Linked DNA regions of Homo sapiens. The protein of the gene in region 1 purifies or fractionates together with the protein of each later gene. This does not show direct contact. Each region holds a gene or a part of one and is shown in the gene's direction. Other genes may lie near its edges.

Region 1 (3,500 bases):
TGCCTGGCTAATTTTTGTATTTTTAGTACAGACGGGGTTTCACCATGTTGGCCAGGCTGGTTTCGAACACCTGACCTCAGGTGATTCGCCCGCCTTGGCTTCCCAAAGTGCTGGGATTACAGGCATGAGCCACCATACCTGGCTTAAACCTTTTTAAAATGTATGATTCAGAGAGCTTGTAGCTCTGTACTAGTTCTTTTTTATTTCCTTTAATTCAATTTTGTATGGTCCACTTCTGTAAAGTTGTGTTGGGGAATCCAGTCCCATGTCATCAGCGTGCCCTAGACTAGGCTTGGCATTTCTATCCAGTTCATGCTCTCATTATGTAATAAGCATGCATATGGAAAGTAACTTTGTGTGTGTGTGTGTGTGTGTGTAGCCCTTCAAATAAAGCTTCACCTGCTAGACAGGCTTGGGCAGGTCCCCTTCTGGGAGGATGGGAGTTTCTTGGTTGAGAGAACTAGTAAGTGAGCCAATATTTGGACTCATGCCCACCACCACCTTTGAGCTTCCTGAAGGTCCACTATTACGATTTTTAAGCAATTGCTCCAAAACAGAATTCTCTCACTGTCTACCAGTCTAGGCCTTACTTTTCTTTTTATTTCTTTTTTTTCTGAAGATTTTATTTTCCTCTTTTCCATGATTAAAAATCCTCTGAAGAGAGGCAAACACTTCAACACTCTTTTACTTTAATAACTTGTCTTCTGACTTCCCACTGGAGTAATAGTCACCAACACTCCCATCAGTTTTGTGTCTGTCTTAAACTAACTTGCTCTCTGGCATTGCCACTCCACTTCTTGCTGATTTTCATCTCCTGGTTCTCCTCACCTCAGTTAGCAAGGCCAGTGTTGTGTGTGCTGTCCATAGCTCCTTTCCTCTAGGTGGAAAGTAAATCTCATATAAAATCATCTTTCTCCTCTACTATGTAAAGCTCAACATGTATTTAGGTATCTTCCAGTGAAAAAGCACTTTTCTGGAGGAAGGAACATTGGAGATGAGAATACTCATTAATAATAAATATTACTTTTGTCTTCAGTGGAGGTGAAAATCTCGAATGCATAGGCATTTTCTAAAAGGTTACATAGGATGATGTTAAAGGGTTTAAATTATTATCATCTCCATGGAGTGGGGCTAGGATATAAGGTCAAGAGTGAAAGATTGGGAAGAGCACTACCCTTCTGTACTGTGTTGGGGTTTTTTGTTTGTTTGATTTTGTTTTGTTTTTGCCATCAGTGTGTTATTACTTTAAAGTTTTAAATCACTAGTTAAAATAATATAGAGACTGGCTGGGCATGGTGACTCATGCCTGTAATCCCATCGCTTTGGGTGGCCAAGGTGGGCAGATCACTTGAGGCCAGGAGTTCGAGACCAGCCTGGCCAACATGGCAAAACCCCATCTCTACAAAAAAAAAAAAAAAAAAAAAAAAAAAATACAAAAATTAATTACTTGGGAGACTGAGGCACGAGAATCCAAGGGAGGCAGAGTTTGCAGTGAGCTGAGATTGTGCCACTACACTCCAGCCTGGGTGACAGAGTAAGACTCTGTCTCAAAAAGTAATAATAATAATATAGAGACCATCTTGCTTTTTTCTAAGCTTAAAATTATAATATTATTAACAAATTTCAAGGACATTTCCTTCTCTATAAGAGTTTCTGCTTTTCCTAAAGTGATGCAATGGAACAGATGACTTTTAAAATAAAGATTCAGAGAATATCACTGAATCAAGTTATATAACTCCAAGTCCAAATGCAAATCATTTTTAAATTGTATTTTAGCATAATATGAGAAAAGATGGTAGAATTTAATTTTAATTTTTTTCTGTATATAACCCCCCCCCCCCAAAAAAAAACGGATGATATTTATTTATTTATGAGACGGAGTCTTGCTCTGTCAGCCAGGCTGTGATACAGTGGCATGATCTTGGCTCACTGCAACCTCTGCCTCCAGGGTTCAAGTGATTCTCATGCCTCAGCCTCCCAAGTAGCTGGGGTTACAGGCGTGCAACACCATGCCTGGCTAATTGTTTTTTTTTTTTTTAGTGGATACACGGTTTCACCATGTTGCCCAGGCTTGTCTCAAACTCCTGACCTCAGGTGATCCGCCTGCCTCAGCCTCCCAAAGTGCTGGGATTACAGGCATAAGCCACCGTGCCCAGCCTGTATACTATACTGTGTTTAAGTGTGAACAGTGGTCATTACTGAAAGTTAGACTGATAGATTTTTTCTAATTTTTCCTTAAATATTCTATAATATACATGATGAGCTGACCTTATAATCAGTGATTTTTAAAGGTTACCTCTCACTTTCAAATAAAGATGCTGTTGTTTCTCAGCTTAATCACCTACTTTTTTGCTTCTGTTCAGTATTTTGTCATAAAAACCTGGTTGGACACACCAGATAGCTTCAAAGTGGCCACCTACTTTTTTCAATGGATTAGACTCTGAATGATCTCTGGCGACTTTCTAAAATTAAATCCTCTATCAAACAAGGAAATTTCTCATCATTGAGTATAGTCAAAAGAATGATCTGTAGACTCCAGAGGAAATTCTAAAAAAAGTTTCATAAATCTATTAATTAAAAGGGGTTTTGTTTAATGGAAGCATTATTAGTTCATAGTTTTTCTTTATTGAAGGAAGAAATTACTTTGATGGGTAAATGCTGGAAAATGTTTTTTTAAATTACTTAAGTTACTATGTAACATTTTTGTTTTTAACTGACATATAGTAATTTTTCATATGTGGGGTACAGTGTGGTGTTTCCATATACATATACATTGTGTAATAATTAAATCAGGGTGATTAGCATATTCATTACATTGAACACTCATCATTTCTTTCTGGTAAGAACAATCAAAATCCTTTCTTCTAGCTCTTTTGTAGTATATGATACATTATTGTTAACTATAATAACTCTATTGTGCAATAGAACACTAGAGCTTATTCTTCCTAACTGTAACTCTGTACCTGTTCACCAATCTTTCCCCATCCCCACCTCACTCCTATTCTCCTGTCTCCAGGAAACTACTATTCTACTCTCTACTTCTGTGATACCAACTTTTTTAGATTCTACATGAGTGAGATCATATGATATTTGCCTCCCAAAGTGCTGGGATTACAGATCGGAGCCACCATGCCATGCCCTAAAATACATATGGCTTCCTGTGTTTGCCATTGCTCCAGGGTTCTATGTGTACATAATCAGTTTTATTTCTTAATCATTTGAGAGTAGGTTGCATACACTTTCTGCCTTTATCTCTTATTTCTTCAGTATTTATTCTGTAAAAATAAGATACTTTTCTTACAGAACCACAGTGCAAAAAAAAATTCAGTAAATTTTAACATAGATACCATAATTTTATCTTTATACTCCAACTTCTTAGGTTGTCTCAATAGTCATATATATGTGTGTGTGTGTGTATGTATATATACATATATATGTGTGTATATATATAAATGACTATATATATATATACATAAATATTTTTTCCCAGTACAGCATTC
Region 2 (3,500 bases), on another chromosome or scaffold:
CATATAGTTAGTAGGTGATGGATTCCAGGTGTGAACTTGGGTCTTACTGCCTTGAAATCCTTTGTTCCATGATACCATACTGCCTCAGAAGTAGAGTTCTTCATTAATTTCATGTGGTTTGTTAATGGGAGGGTAGGAACTCGAATTTCACACACTTCTCCCAGTCCTGTAATTCCAGTGTTATCCGCCATTCTTAGTAAGAGGTGTGAGGTCTTGGAGTTAGGTAAGAGGGCAGCCCATCTGACCTATTTGTAAAGGTCGATTGTGTCTTTTAAGTGTCCCTTGTTCCTCAAAGGCTGGAAGAAAGAAACGATTTCCTTGTTCCATCTTTTGCTGCCAGGAATGAATAAAGCAGAGGAGTTTGTGCTTCTAATCTACTTCTTCACAAAGGAAAAGATTTGTCATGCTTCTTTGGAAATGGGACTGAATTCTGATGTATTAGCTTTTACATATGAAAATTTGTATTTTAATTCCTTGAGTTTGAATAACAGATAATATGGGAAATCTAATATCATACAGGCTCAGAATATCTGCTCTGTTCAGTATCAAACTTATCCTTTGCAAACTCTCTTCTTCCTGTTGGTTTGTTTTTAATTTTGACCAATAATACCACTGGTTCTTGGCCCCCATGTCCAGCCCAGCTAGTCAGGAAATCCAGTCATTTCCACCTTTTTAGTATTGTATGTCTCATCTTTAGTATATCGTCTGTGCTATAAGTCTTATACCACTATCCTGTTTAAAATTCTTCTGGAAAGCCAAGTAAACTAGAAAGGATAAAGTTGAAACTTGTTAGCATGGCACATGTGGTCCTTCCTGATGTGGCCGTAGCCTGCCTTTTCAGACCCATCTCTTTCTACTTCCTACTCAAGTGAATTTGATTCCTGCTTCAAGCAACAGGAACAGCTCCTTTTTCTTAACCTCTGCATTTACTTTTTCCTGTATCTGGATTTTTCTTTTTCCTGGAAAATTTTTATTTGTTCTTTAGGGTTCAACTCAAGGGAATCACTTGTATGAAACTTTTCCTTTTGTCTTCAGGTAGAGGTAAGCATACATTGCTCTGTAATTCCATCATGCCTTTATTTATTCACACTGTGAGAGATGGTATTGTGCAGGTATCTTCTCAGTTTATCTTTTTGTTTCTGAGACGGAGTCTCACTCTGTCGCCCAGGCTGGAGTGCAGTGGCACGATCTTGGCTCACTGTAATCTCCACCTTCCAGGTTCAAACCATTCTCCTGCCTCAGCCTCCCGAGTAGCTGGGATTACAGGTGTGTGCCACCACGCCCGGCTAATTTTTGTATTTTTAGTCGAGATGGGGTTTCACCATGTTGGCCAGGCTGGTCTTGAACTCCTGACCTCAAGTGATCTACCTGCCTCGGCCTCCCAAAGTTCTGGGATTACAGGTGTGAGCCACTGTGCCTGGCCACTTTCTGAATTTATCTTTAGGCTATTTTATTAACAGTTGATTTCTTGATAACTAGGACTGTTTACTTCCAGGATTAGATGGCATTTTATTCATTTAAACTTGTCAAGCAAGAATAACCTCTTTGTTCTTTTTGTTTCCCTAGTATCGGTTTTATGGAGAACCTGTAATAAAAGCATGTATTGAAAATGGAGCCAGTTGTATCGACATCAGTGGAGAACCTCAGGTATAAAAAATAAAAAGGAAAAACGTAGAATTAACACATAAATTTCGGTTTAATGAAGTGGAAATATTTAGTGTAATTTTGCAGACATATTTAGAAGCCGACAACTCCTTTCTAGCATTCAGATATGGTATTCGTGTGGTATTCCATTGATAGCTCAAAGGAGAGCGCTGATGGTAAGGTCTTAGCTTCAGTTTTCTGAATTTTTTCCCTCCCTACAACATCATTTCTTATAGGTCTGTGCTTATTATAGCTACTTCATGCTTTAAACTGAATCAATTAAAATAGCGGACTGTGCATAATTCTTAGAATCTCAATTCTGTCATGTTTTCATTTTGAATTCCCTTTTAAAAATCAGGTACCTTTAGGCCGGGCACGGTGGCTCACACCTGCACTCCCAGCACTTTGGGAGGCCAAGGCGGGCAGATCATGAGGTCAGGAGATCGAGACCATCCTGGCCAACACGGTGAAACCCCATGTCTACTAAAAATACAAAAAGTGAGCCGGGCATGGTGGCGGGCACCTGTCATCCCAGCTTCTTGGGAGGCTGAGGTGGGAGAATGGGGTGAACCTAGGAGGTGGAGCTTGCAGTGAGCCGAGATCACTCCACTGCACTCCAGCCTGCGCCACAGAGCGAGAGCGAGACTCTGTCTCAAAAAAAAAAAGAAAATTCAGTTACCTTTATAACATTACAGAAAAATAAAGGTAAAATTCACTAGTGTAAAATCAACCTAAACATTTTAAATGTTCACATTTATTGAATGCTTACCATATGCCCAACATTGTGCTAAGTGTTTTATGTAACTTTTTAAAAATATACCTATAGGGTAGTTATCTTCCTCCATTTTTTGTAGATGAGGAAATTAAAGCTTAGGAAGCTTAAGTAACTCACTCAGTAATGCACCTAGTAATGCACCTAGTAATGCACCTAGTAAGTAGAAGAACTAGGTCTTCAATTGAGGTTTGCCTGACCACAGGAAGTTATGTGTTAACAGGCATTAAGCTCTACTACAGCCTTTAAAATGGTAACCTCATGTGTCTCTGTAGTAACTACTGATTATCATCATCAGCATGCCAATATGATATTAATATGCATTTGCAGTTTATCAATTGGTAAAATACTGGAAAATACTGAGACAGTGTAAATTACAAAAATTGATTCAAAAAGGAGGAAACAAATTAAAAAAAAAAAAAAGCCCAGGCGAGGTGGCTCACGCCTGTTACCCCAGCACTTTGGGAGGCTAGGTGGGAGGATGACTTGAGCTGGTGAGTTAACAAATTAGCCAGGAGTTGGTAGCACACACCTGTGGTCCCACCTACTCAGGAGAATGAGACAGGAATATCACTTGAGCCTGGGAGGTCAAGGCTGCAATGAGCTATGATCATGCCACTGCACTCCAGCCTGGGCAACATAGTGAGACCCTGTCTCCAAAAAACAAAAACAAAAAACAATTCCCATGTTATTTTAAATAACCCAGAACATAGAAAATGGTGAAAAGCTTTTAAGTCATCTAGAAACTATCATAAAAGTAGTATCGAACCCCCCCCTTTTTTTTTGATACAGGGTCTCTCTCTCTCACCCAGGCTGGAGTGCAGTGCTACGATCTTGGCTCACTGTAACCTCTGCCACCTGGGTTCAAGCGATTCTCCTGCCTCAACCTCCTGAGTAGCTGGGGGTACAGGTGCACACCACCACACCTGACTAATTTTTGTATTTTTAGTAGTGACAGGGTTTCACCGTGTTGGCCAGCTTGGTCTTGAACTCCTGGCCTCAAGTGATCCACCTGCATCGGCCTCCCAGAATGCTGGGATTACAGGCATGAGCCACCACGCCCAGCCATAATATCAAAACCTAA
Region 3 (3,500 bases), on another chromosome or scaffold:
TGGCCAACATGGTGAAACCCCGTCTCTACTAAAAATACAAAATTAGCCAGGCGTGTTGGCGCATGCCTGTAATCCCAGCTACTTGGGAAGCTGAGGCAGGAGAATTGCCTGAACCCGGGAGGCGGAGGTTGCAGTGAGCCAAGATCACACCATTGCACTCCAGCTTAGGCAACAAGAGCGAAACATCGTCTCAAAAAAAAAAAAAGAGAAAATGCTCAAATGTAATAAAGACAGTATTCATCGAGCGTTTTCTCTGTGCCATCAGTGTGCTGAGTGCTTTACCTGCACCATCTCATTTATTTCCCGCAAACCCTCCTGTGGTTTAGGTGCTACCATCCCCATTTGGCAGAAGTGGAAATGGAGTCCCCTAGAAGGTACGTAGCTTGTAGAAAGTCATGTAATTAGTCAACATCGTACTTCCAGCCACTGGCCAGCAGAAGCTTCCCCATCAATTCAAATCCATTGAATCCTAATGGCAATTTAAGAGGCCTGTTTTATTTTATAGGTGGGTGTTTGTGTGGGAAAAGGGCTACCAGGAAACTGACTCCGTGGTCAGCTCCGTTACGACCAAGGTCAAGGGCGTGGCTGTGACCAACACTTCTAAACTTGGATTCCGGATCTGGGATGTGGCGGATTATGTGATACCAGCTCAGGTGTGTCTCCCACTGTGTCTTCTGTCTAACACTGACACCTTGCTCTTTACTGACTTTGCACACTTGATTAATGATTGACGTGGCCTGAGTCCTGACATCACCAATGCCCAGAATGATTGTTTTAGTCCAAGAAAACGGTGCAGCCAGATCTCTTTTCAGCTTAGGATCTAACAGAGTGTATCCAGGCAGCTGTGGTTCCTCAGCTTGAAAGCATGGCAGGCTGAAAGCCCTGAAAGATGAGAAAACAAATGTCTTAAATCCTGATAGAAATTCAAGTGGAAATATCACCTTTCCACATTTTGGGTTTGCATTATTGTCCCAAATACACGAGGTAAATCTTTTCAGACAGTGTAAAAACTTTAGGCCGGGCACAGTAGCTCACGTGTGTAATCCCAGCACTTTGGGAGGCTGGGGCGGGCAGATACCTTGAGCCCAGGAGTTTGAGACCAGCCTGGGCAATGTGGTGAAACCCCATCTCTATAAAAAAAAAAAAAAAGAAAAAAAAAGAAAAGAATTAGAGACCATTAGAGACCAAAACCCAAACAAGAAGGAAACAGAGACAGCAGCACAGGACTCCATCGGGAGCGAAAGGAAGGGAAGACATTGTTTACTGCTGCATACTAGTCTTCAGGCTGTTAATCTGCAAAGCTCCAAGTTAAACATTGACTCTTTAGTCCTGGTAACAGCTCTGCACCACACAGTCAAACCCGACATAGCCCTCCAGATGGCCTATGTGCTAAGGGACCGAGGGCGACCAGTAGAGATAAGCTGCCAACTCTTGGCTCAGAGCTCTTGCCAGGGAAAACAAGAACTCCAGAAACTCTTTCTTCAGGTGTGTTCTTCCCCCTGCCTTCTCAAGAGAAGGGTCTTGTGGGGTCCCCAGAGAGGAGACCGAGCTAATGAGCCATAAAAGTCAGGAGGAAGGGCCAGGTGCGGTGGCTCATGCCTGTAATCCCAGCACTTTGGGAGGCCGAGGTCGGTGTATCATGAGGTCAAGAGATTGAGACCATCCTGGCTAACATGGTGAAACCCTGTCTACTAAAAATACAAAAATTAGTGGGGTGTGGTGGTGGGTGCCTGTAGTCCCAGCTACTAGGGAGGCTGAGGCAGGAGAATCTCTTGAACCTGGGAGGCGGAGGTTGTAGTGAGCCGAGATAGTGCCACTGCACTCCAGCCTGGTGACAGAGCAAGACTCCGTCTCAAAAAAAAAGATCAAGTGGAACAGGGGATTTGCAGTTGGCTGGAGGGGGCAGTCCTGTTAGCATGTACCTGTCTCAGCAGAGAGACGGTTGCCTCCTGTGCAGGCATAGCCTTGTCCCGGTGAGCTCTGGGAATGTCATGCTCGGTGTGTTTACTGGGCAGATGAGGAAGGGCACAAGCCCCGCTTTTGTCCCTTGGTGGAAAGGAGCACCCCACAACTCAGCCTTCCGTGGTGGATCTGGGCGGGGGCCGTGTGAGTTCCCCAGGGCTTTCCTCATGAGCTTTCACGACGTCTGTGTTCTTTGTAGATGGAACACAGTCATCTATTTGCAGCCCCTTGGCTCATCTCCAGACTGAAATTACCCTTAATTTGAAGTAGATAAGTGATAGGAAACAGGCCAGATGTGGTGGTTCATGCCTGTAATCTCAACACTTTTGGAGGCCGAGGCAGAAGGATCACTTGAGCCCAGGAGTTTGAGGCTGAAGTGAACTGTGATCACGCCACTGCACTCCAGCTAGGGCAACAGAGCAAGACCCCAACTCTAAAAGAGAGAGAAAGAAGGAGAGATAGGAAACGAAAAGTAGACCATACTGGATTGTTCCAAGTATAACTCAGGAGAGTCGTAGGAGCGGCCTTCTCTAACACCAAATGCAGAGTGTGTTTGTACATTGAACACCTGGGAACGTGACAGGTGGCGGGAGAGAGGCTGCAGCTCATGCCACATCCTCACGCCTCCTCCTGTGGCCTTCTCCTTGTCTCCCAACATAGTTTGCCCTAGGCCTTTGGAGGACGCCAGCTATTTCTAGAGCTTCCACCACTTGTCAGACCGTGGGGTTGGGGATGTCTACAGACTGGTTGGTTTCTGAGTTGCCCTGATCCCCAAGATGGCTCCCACTACTGACTGTTATCCTCAGGAGTGTGAAATGCTAAAAGCTTTGGGCATCTCCTTTTAAAATGCCTGGGCCCAGCCAGGCGCAGTGGCTTACGCCTGTAGTCCCAGCACTTTTGGAGGCCAAGGCAGGAGGATCACTTGAGCTCAGGATTCAAGACCAGCCTGGGCAATATAGTGAGACCCCATCTTGATTGGATGGGTGGTGGATGGATGGATGGATGGATGGATGGATGGATGGATGGATAGATAGATAGATAGATAGATAGATAGATAGATAGATAGATGGAAAGAAAGAAAGAATAGATAAATGATAGGATAGGAGAAAGAAAGGGAAAGAAAGAAAAGAGAAGAGAAAAGAAAGAAAAGGGATAGGATAGATGACAGATGATAGGATAGATTAGATAGGTGATAGATAATCGATAAATAGAAAACAGATGATAGATATAGGATAGATTAGATAGATAGATAGATAGATAGATAGATAGATAGACAGATAATAGATAGATTAGATTAGATGGATGGACACCAGCCCCCAATGAGAGGAGGATCCAACTAGAATCTTTTGGGGTCTTTGCCTTTTATTCCTTATATGAGGAGGTCATTATCAGCAATTCTTCAGTCTCATCCCTAGCAAATTGCTTTCCAGAAACTCTAAATCAATTATTTGGCACCTTTATACATATAAGGAGGAAACAGAACCTTTTCAAAGAGAAATGTCACTTGCTGACCCTGACCGAGTCTTCTCTAGAATGTT
Region 4 (3,500 bases), on another chromosome or scaffold:
CTCGTGACCTCGTGATCCACCCACCTCGGCCTCCCAAATTGCTGGGATTACAGGCGTGAGCCACAGCGCCCGGCCTGGAATATTTTTAAACAATTTTTTTTTTAAGAAAGTTCCGTCACCCAGGCTGGAGCACAGTGGCATGATCATGGCCCACTGCAGCCCAGACCTCCTGGGCTCAGGCGATCCTCCCATATCGATGCTGGGTGTATGCCACCACTCCTGGTTAATTTTTTTTTTTTTTTTTTAATAGAGATGAAGTCTCACTATGTTGCCCCCAGGCTGGTCTTGAATTTCTGGCTTCAAGCGATCCTTCTTCCTGGCCTCCCAAAGTGTTAGGTATGAAATACCGTGCCAGGCCTAAATTCTCCTGCCTCAGCCTCCCGAGAAGGTGGGATTACAGGCATGTGCCACCACACATGGCTAATTTTTGTATTTTTTGTAGAGATGGGGTTTCACCATGTTGGCCAGACTGGTCTCCAACTCGTGACTTCAAGTGATCTCCCTGTCACGGCCTCCCAAAGTGTTGGGATTACAGGTGTGAGCCACCATGTCTGACCTCTTTTTCTTTTCTGATTGCATTGTATTTCTAGAACAAAGTTAAATAATAGGGATGACACTGAGTAACTTGTTTCATTCCTGACTTTAATGAGAATGCTGTTAGTGTTTTTGCCATTTAAGTGCCATGCTGGGGTGTGTTGCTAATGTTGTGGGGAGCTTTTTGTTTTTGTTCCTGCTCCCTCACTGATGTTTTTAAAATAAAAAATGGTGATTGAGTTTTCTCAAATGCCAGTGTACATCTGTGGAATGATCATAGAGATTTTCTTCTTTTATCTGTTAACATAATGAGTTATAGTAATGGATTTATATTATTGAATCATCATTGTATTCCTGGGATAAACTCTCTTATTGTATAGCCAGATTCTATTTATTCATTTATTTTTTATTTTTATTTTTTGAGGCGGGGTTTCACTCTGTTGCCCAGGCTGGAGTGCAGTGGCACGATCTCGGGTCACTGCAACTTCTGCCTCCCAGGTTCAAGCAATTCTCTGGCCTCAGCCTCCCGGGTAGCTGGGATTACAGGCACCTGCCACCATGCCCGGCTAATTTTTGTATTTTTAATGGAGACGGGATTTTGCCATGTTGACCAGGCTGGACTCGACCTACTGACCTCAGATAATCTGCCTGCCTCAGCCTCCCAAAATGCTGGGATTATAAGGCGTGAGCCACCGCACCTGGCCTATTTATTAATATTTTATTTTGAAATTTTACATCATGAGGCCGGGCTCGGTGGCTCACGCCTGTAATCCCAGCACTTTGGGAGGCCGAGGCAGGCTGATCACGAGGTCAGGAGATCGAGACCATCCTGGCTGACGGGTGAAACCCCGTCTCTACTAAAAAATACAAAAAAAATTAGCCAGGCGTGGTGGCGGGCGCCTGTAGTCCCAGCTACTCAGGAGGCTGAGGTAGGAGAATGGCATGAATCCGGGAGGTGGAGCTTGCAGCGAGCCCAGATTGCACCACTGCACTCCAGCCTGGGCGACAGAGCAAGACTCCATCTCAAAAAAAAAAAAAGAAAGAAAAAGAAATTTTACATCATTTGTGAGAATAGTCTGTAATTTTCTCTTATGCAACCTTTATCAAGTTGTTTTAGTGTTTTCTATAGCTTTGTAAAAAGTTTCTTACATAACATTTTATTCTAAACTTTTATTTTTATTATTATTATTATTATTTTTTTGAGACGGAGTCTCGCTGCATCACCCAGGCTGGAGTGCAGTGGCGCGATCTTGGCTCACTGCAAGCTTTGCCTCCCGGGTTCACGCCATTCTCCTGCCTCAGCCTCCCAAGTAGCTGGGACTACAGGTGCCCACCAACACACCTGGCTAATTTTTTGTATTTTTTTTAGTAGAGACGGGGTTTCACCGTGTTAGCCAGGATGGTCTCAATCTCCTGACCTCGTGATCCGCCTGCCTTGGACTCCGAAAGTGCTGGGATTACAGGTGTCAGCCACCGCACCCGGCCATTTTATTCTAAACTTTTAGCCAGCTTAAGAATTTTTTAAATTATTTGTTTAAAATTTGGTAGAAATTCTCTTGTAAAACTGTCTAAGCCTGGTGCCTTTCTATTTATTTATTTATTTATTTATTTAAATTTTTTGGTACAGGCAGGTCTTGCCACGTTGCCTAGGCTGGTCTTGAACTTCTCTCTCAAGCAGTCCTTCCACCTCTGTCCCCCAAAGTATTGGGATTATAGGCATGAGCCACCACCCTAGCCAGTGCTGTTTCAGAATATAGCACTTCGGTAACTACTACAGTGTCTTCTACGTCTGTTTAGAATTTGCTATGTCCTGGTTTCAGTTTTGGTGGTTTATGTATTCTTATAAAATTACCAATTTAATTCACCTTTTCTCCTCTGTAGCTATGGCCATTTCCCTAGTTTTCTTCCCTGTTTTTTGTAATTAGGGTTTTTCCTCCGTTTTCCTCTTTTTTTTTTTTTTTTTTTTTTTTGAGTCTCACTCTTGTTGTCCAGGTTGGAGTGCAATGGCATGATCTTGGCTCATTGCAACCTCCGCCTCCCAGTTTCAAGCGATTTTCCTGCCTCCGCCTCCCGAGTAGCTGGGATTACAGGTATGTGCCACCACACCCAGCTAATTTTGTATTTTTAGTAGAGACAGGGTTTCTCCATGTTGGTCAGGCTGGTCTCAAACTCCCAACCTCAGATGTTCCACCCGCCTTGGCCTCCCAAAGTGTTGGGATTACAGGCGTGAGCCACCGCGCCTGGCCTGCTTTTTCCTCCTGATTTAGGCTAGTCAGTAATATATCTAATATCCATACATACACTGAAGTGGGGAAATATATATACACACACACATACACACACACACATGTTTTGTGCTCCATCAAAGAAAATATCTCTTTTTAGTTCTGGGGGATGCTGAGAAGTGGAGAGAACAGGTTCTTTCTGAAGGGGACAGCAGCTACCACACCCTGTCCTGTTGCTGCCTGGCAGGAATGTGGTCCCAGAGTGGCCAGATTGTCCAGTCTTTCTGGAAAAGACTAGCTGGTGTTTTTTTTAGTTTGTTTTGTTTTGTGTTTGAGATCGGGTTTGGCTCTACACCCGGACTGGAGTGCTGCAGTGCAGTCATGGCTCACTGCAGCCTCTGCCTCTCAGGGTCAAATGGTCTTCGCACCTCAGCCTTACAAGTAGCTGGGACTACAGGCACCCACCACCATGCCTAGCTAATTTTTGTATTTTTTGTAGAGACAGAGTTTTGCCATGTTGCCCAGGCTGGACTTGAACTCCTGAGCTCAAGTGATCCACCCGCCTAAGCCTCCCAAAGTGCTGGGATTACAGGCATGAGCCAGTGCACCCGGCCTTTTGTTTGTTTATATAGTTTTTTTTTTGTCTTAGTGTGTGTGCTTGTGTGTGTGTGTGTAGTATTGCCAACTTTTTTAACATTGGTAAGTAACTCAGATGAGAACAATTTTGGAGGTTAAAAAAAA
Region 5 (3,500 bases), on another chromosome or scaffold:
GTTATTTTCACACACTCTGGAAAAGGACACCTTCCCAGATGTGTGGTGCCATTTGGAATGTGCCTTTCAACTGAGAAGGTCGCCTTTTGGCTAAAATTCCTCCAGGTGTAACATCGATGATACAAATTAAGCAGACACAGCCTCTTTACAAGGCAGTAACTGCAAACCGTAGAGGGTTCTGAAGCTGTGCGCCCACACCATAGACAGTGACTGGTCCTGGCCCTTGGAAAAACCTGGAGGCTCTTTCCCCTCTTCCTCCTGTGATTGGTGGAGGAACAGCTCCCCGAGATGTCCACGTCCTACCTTCTGAGCCTGTGAATATGTTACATTACATGGCAAAGGGGAATTAAGGTTGCTGATCAGCCGGCCTTAAAGTAGTGAGATGATCCTGGATTTTCCCAGGGAGCCCAGTGTAATCACAGGGTCCTTAAGAACAGAAGAGGGAAGCAGAAGAGCCGGAGGGAGATGATGGCCAAGAGCCTTGGGGAAGTGCAGTGGGCGGGCTTTGGAGGGGGAGGAGGGGCCACCAGGCAGGGAATGTGGGTGCCTCCAGAAGCTGGAAGAGGCATGAGAATGGAGCCATGGCCCGTGTGAGGCTTCTGTCCCACAGGACGGTGCCTGCTGCCTGCCGTGTGCTGGATACTAGGGGCGGGGACAGGTGCAGAAGTCAGTCAGATCCTGAGCTTGACCTTTAAGGAGCGTGCTGTCTGTGGAGGCAGGATGGCCTAACCAGACTCCCTGTGACCTTCTTCCTTTCTGGTTTCCTTGTACTGCCCACCCCCGAGGAGATTTGCCGTGGAATTTGCAGGTACAATAGTTAGCCTTGCAAGTGCCAAAGCAGGAATCAGGTAACGTTTTCAAGGAGTCTGGCCCATAGCAGGCATTAATAAGTGTTTCTTTGAGATGCGCCACCCGTGTTCTCTCAGGCGCTGTTAGCATGAGTGTGTGAAGGCCTTGGCTTCTGCCTTGGCTGTGCTGAAGAGTCTGTAGGTCAGTGGGGTTTGCTCTTTACCATGGCAGTGAACACAGTGGGCACTCTGAGGCCTGCCTGCCTGCTCTCTGGGTGTGGGAAGGGAAAGGAAGGTAGCTCTTCTCCAGAGATAAGGGGTTGGCGCACCTGCCACCTGCCTACCCGTCCCTTCCAAGGAGGTGGGGGCTAGGATGTGGCGGCCTCTTAACAGGATGATGTGGCTTCCTGCCCTGCCTGGATCCTGAAAGGGAGGAGCCTGGCAGCCCTCAGTAAACCTGCTGGTTCTGCCACCTGTCCTATTCCACTCCTGCAGGAAGCTGGAGAAACAAACCCTCTTGGCTGTCTGCTGTCCAGGGAGTCGCCACTCCCTTCATTATAGCCTTGCTCAGAGTGCAGCGGCAGGCCTGGGGATGGCCTCGGGAGGTAGGTGGCCCCTGAGCCCTTCTCCTGGGAAAGGGCAGCAGCAGGGAGACGCCTCCTGGGTGTGCACAGAGAAAAGCACAGTTTCCCTAACTCCCCGCTCCCTAACTCCTCGCTCTTTAACTCTCACCTCCCTAACTCCCCCCTCCCTAACTCCCTTCTCCCTAACTCCCCTCTCCCTAACTCCCTTCCCTAACTCCCCTCTCCTTAACTCCTCTCCCTAACTCCCCCCTCCCTAAATCCCCTCTCCCTAACTCCCTTCTCCCTAACCCCCCTCTCCCTAACTCCCCTCCCTAACTCCCCCTTCCCTAACCCCCCTCTCCCTAGCTCCCCTCTCCCTAACTCCCTTCTCCCTAACTCCCCTCCCTAACTCCCCTCTCCCTAACCCCCCTCTCCCTAACTCCCATCTCCCTAACTCCCCCCTCCCTAACTCCTTGCTCCATAACTCCCCCCCAGCTCCCCTCTCCCTAACTCCCCTCCCTAACTCCCCTCTCCTTAACTCCTCTCCCTAACTCCCCCCTCCCTAAATCCCCTCTCCCTAACTCCCCTCCCTAACTCCCCTCCCTAACTCCCCCTTCCCTAACCCCCCTCTCCCTAGCTCCCCTCTCCCTAACTCCCTTCTCCCTAACTCCCCTCCCTAACTCCCCTCTCCCTAACCCCCCTCTCCCTAACTCCCATCTCCCTAACTCCCCCCTCCCTAACTCCTTGCTCCATAACTCCCCCCCAGCTCCCCTCTCCCTAACTCCCCTCTCCCTAACTCCCCTCCCTAACTCCCCTCTCCTTAACTCCTCTCCCTAACTCCCCCCTCCCTAACTCCCCTCTCCCTAACTCCCCTCCCTAACTCCCTTCTCCCTAACCCCCCTCTCCCTAACTCCCCCCTCCCTAACTCCCCTCTCCCTAACTCCCCTCCCTAACTCCCCTCTCCTTAACTCCTCTCCCTAACTCCCCCCTCCCTAACTCCCCTCTCCCTAACTCCCCTCCCTAACTCCCTTCTCCCTAACCCCCCTCTCCCTAACCCCCCTCTCCCTAACTCCCCTCCCTAACCTCCCTCTCCCTAACTCCCCTCTCCCTAACTCCCCTCCCTAACTCCCCCCTCCCTAACTCCTCTCCCTAACTGTCCTCTCCCTAGCTCCCCTCTCCCTAACTCTCCTCTCCCTAACTCCCCTCCCTAACCTCCCTCTCCCTAACTCCCCTCTCCCTAACCCCCCTCTCCCTAACACCCCTCCCTAACTCCCCCCCAACTCCTCTCCCTAACTCCCCTCTCCCTAACTCCCCTCCCTAACTCCCCTCCCTAACTCCCCTCTCCCTAACTCCCCCTCCCTAACTCCCCACTCACTAACTCCCCTCTCCCTAACTCCCCTCTTCCTAACTCCCCTCCCCAATTCCCCCCTCCCTAACTCCCCCCCAACTCCCTACTCCCTAACTCCCCGCTCCCTAACTCCCAGCTCCCTCACTGGTGGCTCCCCTGCGCTCTGGGAGTGTCCTGTGGGATGGACAGATGCCTCCGTGGTGCCTTGCAAGCCTTGCAGGTGGTTATTCCTCCTGTGAGTGCTCCTGTGAGTGCTCTCCAGGCAGCAGCAGGGGTCCTGTCCCTGTAGGCCCCTGAGTCTGGGAGATAGCTGGTTTGCAGCCCCACTGAACAGGAGAGCCTGGCTGGCCACAGAACCCATGACTTTGCTGTAGTCCCTGAGTCCTCTTGTTGCTGATTATCTAAAATCAAACCATTACTCTGCAGGCACTGGGTTTGTCAATCTTTTCACAATAAAGCGAGCATTTAAACTGCTTAAGCTTTGAGGGGTGTAGGGAGAAGCCTCACACGAGCCCCTTCTGGAAAGGACTTTGTCCATCTTGTGTCTTACCCTCGCCGGTTCATTTCTGTTGTTTCTGGCTGGCAACAAACAAAAGAGCCCCCCCACCCCCCACCCCCGAAAAAGAACCCAGCTTTTTAAAGAACATGCAAACTCTTGCCTGCAGCAGGCGCCGGCAGCCAGGCACCCCGGCAGCCAGTGGTAGCTCATACACCAGCATGGGCTGTGGCAAAGGCATCTGATTTGAAATTTTTTTGCAAAATAAAATAATTCCTTGGGGTCCTGAAGGAGAGATGAAGCCC
Region 6 (3,500 bases), about 16 Mb from region 1:
TTTTGAATTCTTGATTTGTTTTGTAAAACATTTTCTCTGAATTCCTTTGGCATTTCCTGATGATTTCTCATAATTTAGCAATTTATACAGTGTCTCATATTGTTTATTATTATTTATGTTCCTTGAGGGTTGGAATGGGTGCTTTTCTTTTAGTCTTATTTATTTTTGAGACAAGGTCTCATTCTGTTGCCTGGGCTGGAATGCAATGACATGATGATAGCTCACTGTAGCCTCAAACTCCTGAGCTCAAGTATTCCTCCTGCCTCAGCCTCCCAGGTAGCTGGGAATATAGGCATGAGCCATTATGCCTGGCTAATTTTTTGTTTTCTGTAGAGACAAGACTTTGCTGTGTTGCCCAGGCTGGTCTCAAAATCCTGGGCTCAAGCAATCTTCCCACCTCAGCCTTCCAAAGTGCTGGGATTGCAGGCATGAGCCACCTGACTAGCTGGTCTCTTTAAAAATTAGTTGCACTTGACTAAGAGAAAGAGAGACCCCAAAACAGTGGCTTCAGTAAACAGTAAATTTTATTTTTCTAATGGAATGACAATTCCAAAAAACAGGCAGTTGCTTGTGTTAATTAGGGCCATAAGGATACCAAGGCATAGGTCTTTGACATTTCCCTTGTCTTTTCTTCATGGTCGTGAGATGGTCGTTCCAGTCATGGCCAATGCGTCCATGTTTCAGGCAGCAGAAAGGTGGAATCAGGGAAGAAAATACCTATTTCAGTCAAGCTGAATTTTCTGCTTACAGATAATTGGAGAGAACAAGGTTATATGGCTACCCTTATGTAAGTGAAGTTGAAGAATTGTTTTCTGATTGAGCACATTTGCCACCTTCCAACAAAAATGAGATATTATTAGTAAGAAAGAAAGGGAGAGAGTCCATTAATTGGTTACTTATAATACAGCAGTAGAGAACACAAACTCAGAACAGCTTCTGTCTTCTTTTTTTTTTTTTCCGACACCAAGTCTCGCTTTGTGCTGGAGCGCAGTAGCATGATCTCAGCTCACTGCAACCTCTGCCTCCCAGGTTCAAGCAATTCTCATGCCTCAGTCTCCCGAGTAGCTGGGACTATAGACAGGCACCACCACGCCCAGCTAATTTTTGTATTTTTAGGAGAGATGAGGTTTCTCCATATTTGCCAGGCTGGTCTTGAACTCCTGACCTCAGGTGATCCGCCCGCCTTGGCCTCCCAAAATGCTGGGATTACAGGTGTGAGCCACCATGCCCGATAGCATGTATCTTTTGTTTACCCCGAGTAAAGATATATTCATTCACACTTGAAATATCTAGATTTTAAGTAGCTCTCAACACATAGCCACCTCCTTTGTATGTCCTAGTGAGATGTGGAAGCTAATCTCCCAATTATGTGTCACAACTAGCTTCAAAACTATAGACCTAACAGTACTCCAAAATGAATGCAGATTGAGCATCCCTAATCTGAAAATCTGAAATCCAAAACTCTTCAAAATCTGAAGCTTTTTGAACGCTGACATGATGCCACACAAGTGGCTGAGATATTGACACCTTTGCTTTCTGATGGTTAAGAGTACACAAATTTGTTTTAGCCACAAAATTGTGTAAAATATTTTATAAAATTACTTTTAGGCCATGTATATAAGGTAGATGTGAAACATAAATGAATTTCATATTTAAACTTGGGCACCATCCCCAAGATATAATGTATGTGCAAATATTCCAAAATCCCAAAATACCCGAAATCTGGTCCCAAGCAGTTTGGGTAAAGGATACTCTCAACCTGTGTAAGGTTGTGAGACATAGCAACAAAAGGCTATGTGATAAAGAAACAGGAAATGACATTGCATAATGATTCATGGCTGTGGTGATGTTTGAAGGATAAAAATCATGATTGTTCCAGTTTGAAAAACAGAGAAATACATTAAATTCTTTTTTTTTTTTTTTGAGGCAGGGTCTTACTCTGCCACCCAGGCTGGAGTGCAGTGGCACCATCATGGCTCACTGCAGCTTTGACCTGCTTGACTCAAGTGATCCTCCTACTTCAGCCTCCCAGGTAGCTGGGACTACAGGTGCATGCCACCATGCCTGGCTTATTTTTGTATTTTTTGTAGAGATGGGGTTTTGCCATGTTGCCCACCTGGTCTCAAACTCCTGGCTTAAGCGATCCTCCTACCTCTACCTCCCAAAGTGCTGGGATTACAGACATGTGCCACCATGCCCAGCCCATTAAACTCAACATTATCAAAGGCTATATTCAAGATGATCTTGAATTCCCAAATTTGTAAACGTGGAAATGTTTGTACCAGGCATGTATGACTTTGTCCTTTCAAATCATGTTTGTCAGGTTTCCTGTAGATTATCCATATGCCACAAGTTAACCACATTTTCAACTTTAATGCAAAGTTGTTCTCTTATCTAGTGAGCTACTTGTATATTAGCTAGAAACAGCTCCTTCCTGAAACAGTTTTAGCTTTACAATTTTTTTTCTCTTTCCTTTTGTTGTGAATTCATTTACCTAACAGATGGAGTCCCCTTTGAACTGGATACTTAATTTTAAATTTATTCACAAATTTTTTTCTGACTAAAAGCCATTACTTCTTTCTTTCTTTCTTTCAGTCATTTATTTATTTATTTTAAGAAATGGGATCACAGTCTGTGAGCCAGGCTGGAGTGCAGTGGTACAATCATAGCTCATTGCAACCTCGACCTCCTGGGCTCAAACCGTCTTCCCCCCTCAGCCTCCCAAGTAGCTGGGATTACAGACATGTGCCACCATGCCTGACTAATTTTATTTTTAGAGACAGGGTCTTGTGGCTGGGCACGGTGGCTCACGCCTGTAATCCCAGCACTTTGGGAGGCCAAGGTGGGCAGATCTTGAGGTCAGGAGTTCTGGAGCAGCCTGGCCAACATGGTGAAACCCTGTCTCTACTAAAAATACAAAAATTAGCCAGGCGTGGTGGCACAAACCTGTAATCCCAGCTACTCAGGAGGCTGTGGCAGGAGAATTACTTGAACCCGGGAGGCAGAGGTTGCCGTGAGCCAAAATTACACCATTGCACTCCAGCTCTGGGCAACAGAGCAAGACTCTGTCTCGAAAAAAAACAAAAACAAAAACAGACAGTGTCTTGTTATGTTGCCCAGGCTCATTACATCTTTAGATCCTTTTACTTTCTTCACCTCGGTTACCAATACTAGCCATTGATTGGCGGGCAAGAGGTGGGCATTTTTTCCTACAATACAGCAATTTTTTACAACCTGGCTAAGGCTCCTAAGAGCTGGTTATATAAACCATGACAACTAGAGAAGGATGAAACCTTATTTTGAAATACAGGATCCCATATACTAGTGTTTTACACCAATGGTACTCAAAGAGTGGTCCCAGACCATGGCATCAACATTGAGCAGGAACTTGTTATATATGCGAGTTATCTAGTCCTACTCCAGACAAACAATCAGAAACTTTGAGGTTGGACCCAGCAGTCTGTTTTAACAAGCCTGCAGGTGATTGTGATGTGTGCTAA
Region 7 (3,500 bases), on another chromosome or scaffold:
GTGGCAGGCACTTCCTCCTAACAAGAAGGAAGTAGTTAAAGAAAATATAAGGAAGAATAAATGGAAGCTATTCCTTGGTTTGAGTAGTTTTGGATTGCTCTTTGTGGTGTTTTATTTTACTCACCTGGAAGTAAGTCCAATCACAGGAAGGAGCAAGCTACTATTATTGGGGAAAGAACAGTTCAGACTTTTATCGGAACTGGAATATGAAGCAGTAAGTAGTAAGAGTTGTTTTTAATTAGACTGCTTAATATAACACTCAAAGTAGGAAAGTATCTTAAATGTGAAAGATATGTTGTTTTTTAATTTTAGTCTTTGATATGAAATTAGCATTTTTTTTTCCCGAAGGCCTCAGACCTTTCACACTTAGTATTCCTACTGCCTACATTGCTTTTCCTAGCATTCACCCAGCTAACTCCTGCTCAGCACATTTCACCTTAAATGTCACTTTTCTCAGGAAAACCTTCCTTGATTATCCAGACTGGGTTAGGCAGGGTGACTGGATCAGGCCCTAGGAGGTATCCTTCATACCGACTGAATTATGAACCAGCTCATTTGTAGTTGCGCCCATTGCTTGGCTTTACTGGGGTTAGGTCTCCTAGGCTTTTTTTCTCTGCATACTGTACTTTTCCTTCAAAGCACTCATGAGAGTAACATAATTATTTGCATAATTATTTTTTTGATTGTCTTTCTTGTTAGACTAAGCTTCATGGGGGCAGGGATCTTACCTGTTTTGTTTATGGTTTTAAATACTAACACAGTATGTAAGAGTAGAGCTTAGTATATATTTATTGAATAAATAGATTTATAGTCAGAATTCTTATACCTTGAAAATCAAGTAATATAAGATTTTTTTCCCAAACATCAGTTTTAGCAATTTATTATATTTTTTGAATCCAAATTTAAGTTATAATTTAGAAGTCTTACCTCTTTGGAAAGTATAGTAACTCAGGTAGTTAAACATTTTGTACCCTAGTGAGTTTCTTAGGGACAGAGGTCATTTTCTCTCCAGTTCATAGCACATACACATGTTATGTGCCCTGTGGCTCAATTAATATTTTTCGAATTCATGTCCAGTAGCCTCACTTGACAGCTTTGGCATGGCTGAATCTTTTTTTTTTTTTTTTTTTTGAGACAGAGACTTGCTCTGTCACCCAGGCTGTACTGCAGTGGTGCCATCTTGGCTCACTGCAACCTCCACCTTACAGGTTCAAATTATTCTCCTGCCTCAGCCTCCCGAGTAGCTGGGACTACAGGCGTGCGCCACCACGCCTGGCCAATTTTTGTATTTTTAGTAGAGATGGGGTTTCATCCGTGTTGGCCAGGATGGTCTTGATCTCCTGACCTCGTGATCTGCCCACCTCCTAAAGTGCTGGGATTACAGGCATGAGCCACCATGCCCAGCCGCTTGTTGATTCTTAAGTGAAAAAAAGCATACACTTTATGAAAGTTAAAGTAATATTTCAGAACATTTTTAATTTTCTCAGTACACTTGAAAGAGCTCTCATGAATATAACTTCAGAAAAAGTATCTTCTGTGGTGGCTAGTCTTAATCAGCATCTTTTAGAGACAGTGATAATGCTCATTAGTTCTGAGAATTCAGTAATTTCCTTTCAATCTGTGAGTAAAACACCTTAAAATTAATGAAATGTCTATTTTGGTAGTTTAACTTTCTTATTAGGTATAGGGTGTTTTTCTGTTCAATGCATTGTGAATTTAATTTTCTTTTGTATTTTACTTAGATGAAATCTTAAGTTCTCCAGGCTCTCCTTTTCTTTTCTTTTTGAGATGGGATCTCCCTCTGTCACCCAGGTTGGTGTTGGAGTGCAGTGGCGAGATCTCAGCTCACTGCAACCTCCACCTCCTAGACTCAAGCGATCCTCCCACTTCAGCCTCCCATGTAGCTGGGAACACAGGTGCATGCCACCACGCCTGGCTAATTTTTTGTGTTTTCGGTAGAGACGGGGTTTCACCATGTTGCCCAGGCTGGTCTTGAACTTCTGAGCTGAGGTGATCCTCCTGCCTTGGCCTCCCCTAGTTCTGGGATTACAGGCGTGAGCCATCTTGCCCTGGCCTAGGCAGTGTTTTCTAAAATGTTTAGGAAAGTAGAAATAATACTTAAGTATTCGTTTGTAGTTTAATCGAAAAGAATGAAATTTTGATGTCAATCTATTCATAAAAAAACTTAGTATTAGAATTTATTCCTTTGTAAGAAACCACATTGTCTTTGCATGAATAATTCAGATTTGAGAAATTTCAGTGCTTAATATATGCAGATTTTTATATAATTAAAACTTAAAATGTTCAATAATAAGTAGCCATATAACTTTCCATGAAGCAGAGTAAGCATTTTGTAGTGCTCTTTTAAAATAAGAAGTAATTTTTAATCTTTCAGTGGATGGAAGAATTTAAAAATGATATGCTAACTGAGAAAGATGCCCGATACCTGGCTGTTAAAGAAGTGCTTTGTCATCTAATTGAATGCAATAAAGATGTTCCAGGGATCTCTCAGATCAATTGGGTTATTCATGTGGTTGATTCCCCAATTATTAATGCCTTCGTGCTTCCAGTAAGTAAATGTTCTCAAACGCATTGTAATTGTTAAATTTATTGTCCTTATTTTTTATGATGTTCTAATTGCTTACATTATTTTCTTTGTGGTGCAGAATGGACAAATGTTTGTTTTCACTGGATTTTTAAATAGTGTAACCGATATTCATCAACTTTCTTTCCTTCTGGGCCATGAAATAGCACATGCAGTACTTGGGCATGCTGTAAGTACCTAAAATGAATGTTCAGGTTTGGAAAAACTGCTTTGAAGTTAACAAGTTAAATCTTTTAAAGAACTGATTTTTTTCAGGTTTTTTAAAAATGATAGACTTTTAGTTTTGGGTAATTGCCTTAATCTGCTACCTGAAAAAAACGTGATTGGCTAATTTTGAGAATTTTTATGGTCTTTAGTATTTGATACTGAATAATATTTTTCTTAAATACTATTTTTATCACCTGTCTCTTTTGCTAAAACGTAATTATTCTCAACCCCTAATTATTTCAAATTAAATTTTAAACTTTCTATAATTATTAATATACTTGTAATCTAGTCAGAAAATTAATTGTAGGGAAGTGATATTACTATTTAAGTGGGTAAATCATCTTTCTTTTTTATTCATTCTCAGAGGATAGCTTGGAGCATCTTTGAAAATGTCTAGAATGATGTGTCATGTGTAATTAATACAGAGTAATAACAATACCTTGCCATTTTACAGTTTACTGAGCTTTTTAGTATATGTGGCTTCCCATTCATAATTTTAATACCCAATGAGGTATGTATTTATTATTACTATTTTATATAAGAGAAAACTAATGTTTAGAAAAACAGTAACATGACTAACCTGACAAAGTAACCGAACTGGGACTTTAACGTGGGTCTTCTGTATGTTAGTCCAGTGTTTCTTCCTTTCACTACAGTTACCTGGTTTTTAGCAGCGCTTTTCTTATAG

The links.
Region 2: the proteins of BZW2 (region 1) and SCCPDH purify together in Homo sapiens (affinity purification with mass spectrometry; 2 studies listed by BioGRID and IntAct, with this or other methods). This does not show direct contact.
Region 3: the proteins of BZW2 (region 1) and P2RX4 purify together in Homo sapiens (co-immunoprecipitation; one large-scale study listed by IntAct). This does not show direct contact.
Region 4: the proteins of BZW2 (region 1) and ABHD12 purify together in Homo sapiens (co-immunoprecipitation; one large-scale study listed by IntAct). This does not show direct contact.
Region 5: the proteins of BZW2 (region 1) and CANT1 purify together in Homo sapiens (affinity purification with mass spectrometry; 2 studies listed by BioGRID and IntAct, with this or other methods). This does not show direct contact.
Region 6: the proteins of BZW2 (region 1) and NT5C3A purify together in Homo sapiens (affinity purification with mass spectrometry; 2 studies listed by BioGRID and IntAct, with this or other methods). This does not show direct contact.
Region 7: the proteins of BZW2 (region 1) and OMA1 purify together in Homo sapiens (affinity purification with mass spectrometry; 2 studies listed by BioGRID and IntAct, with this or other methods). This does not show direct contact.

What each region holds. Positions count from the first base shown.
Region 1 is NC_000007.14:16,652,681-16,656,180, forward strand, and holds part of BZW2 (eIF5-mimic protein 1), read left to right. Parts: intron 1-3,500. UniProt on the Homo sapiens protein: Translation initiation regulator which represses non-AUG initiated translation and repeat-associated non-AUG (RAN) initiated translation by acting as a competitive inhibitor of eukaryotic translation initiation factor 5 (EIF5) function.
Region 2 is NC_000001.11:246,734,409-246,737,908, forward strand, and holds part of SCCPDH (saccharopine dehydrogenase-like oxidoreductase), read left to right. Parts: intron 1-1,566; coding exon 1,567-1,647; intron 1,648-3,500.
Region 3 is NC_000012.12:121,216,629-121,220,128, forward strand, and holds part of P2RX4 (P2X purinoceptor 4), read left to right. Parts: intron 1-326; coding exon of another isoform or gene 327-374; intron 375-505; coding exon 506-653; intron 654-3,500. UniProt on the Homo sapiens protein: ATP-gated nonselective transmembrane cation channel permeable to potassium, sodium and calcium. CTP, but not GTP or UTP, functions as a weak affinity agonist for P2RX4.
Region 4 is NC_000020.11:25,384,336-25,387,835, reverse strand, and holds part of ABHD12 (lysophosphatidylserine lipase ABHD12), read left to right. Parts: intron 1-3,500.
Region 5 is NC_000017.11:79,003,265-79,006,764, reverse strand, and holds part of CANT1 (soluble calcium-activated nucleotidase 1), read left to right. Parts: intron 1-3,500.
Region 6 is NC_000007.14:33,052,777-33,056,276, reverse strand, and holds part of NT5C3A (cytosolic 5'-nucleotidase 3A), read left to right. Parts: intron 1-3,500. UniProt on the Homo sapiens protein: Nucleotidase which shows specific activity towards cytidine monophosphate (CMP) and 7-methylguanosine monophosphate (m(7)GMP). CMP seems to be the preferred substrate.
Region 7 is NC_000001.11:58,533,227-58,536,726, reverse strand, and holds part of OMA1 (metalloendopeptidase OMA1, mitochondrial precursor), read left to right. Parts: coding exon 1-214; intron 215-2,395; coding exon 2,396-2,569; intron 2,570-2,666; coding exon 2,667-2,774; intron 2,775-3,500. UniProt on the Homo sapiens protein: Metalloprotease that is part of the quality control system in the inner membrane of mitochondria. Activated in response to various mitochondrial stress, leading to the proteolytic cleavage of target proteins, such as OPA1, UQCC3 and DELE1.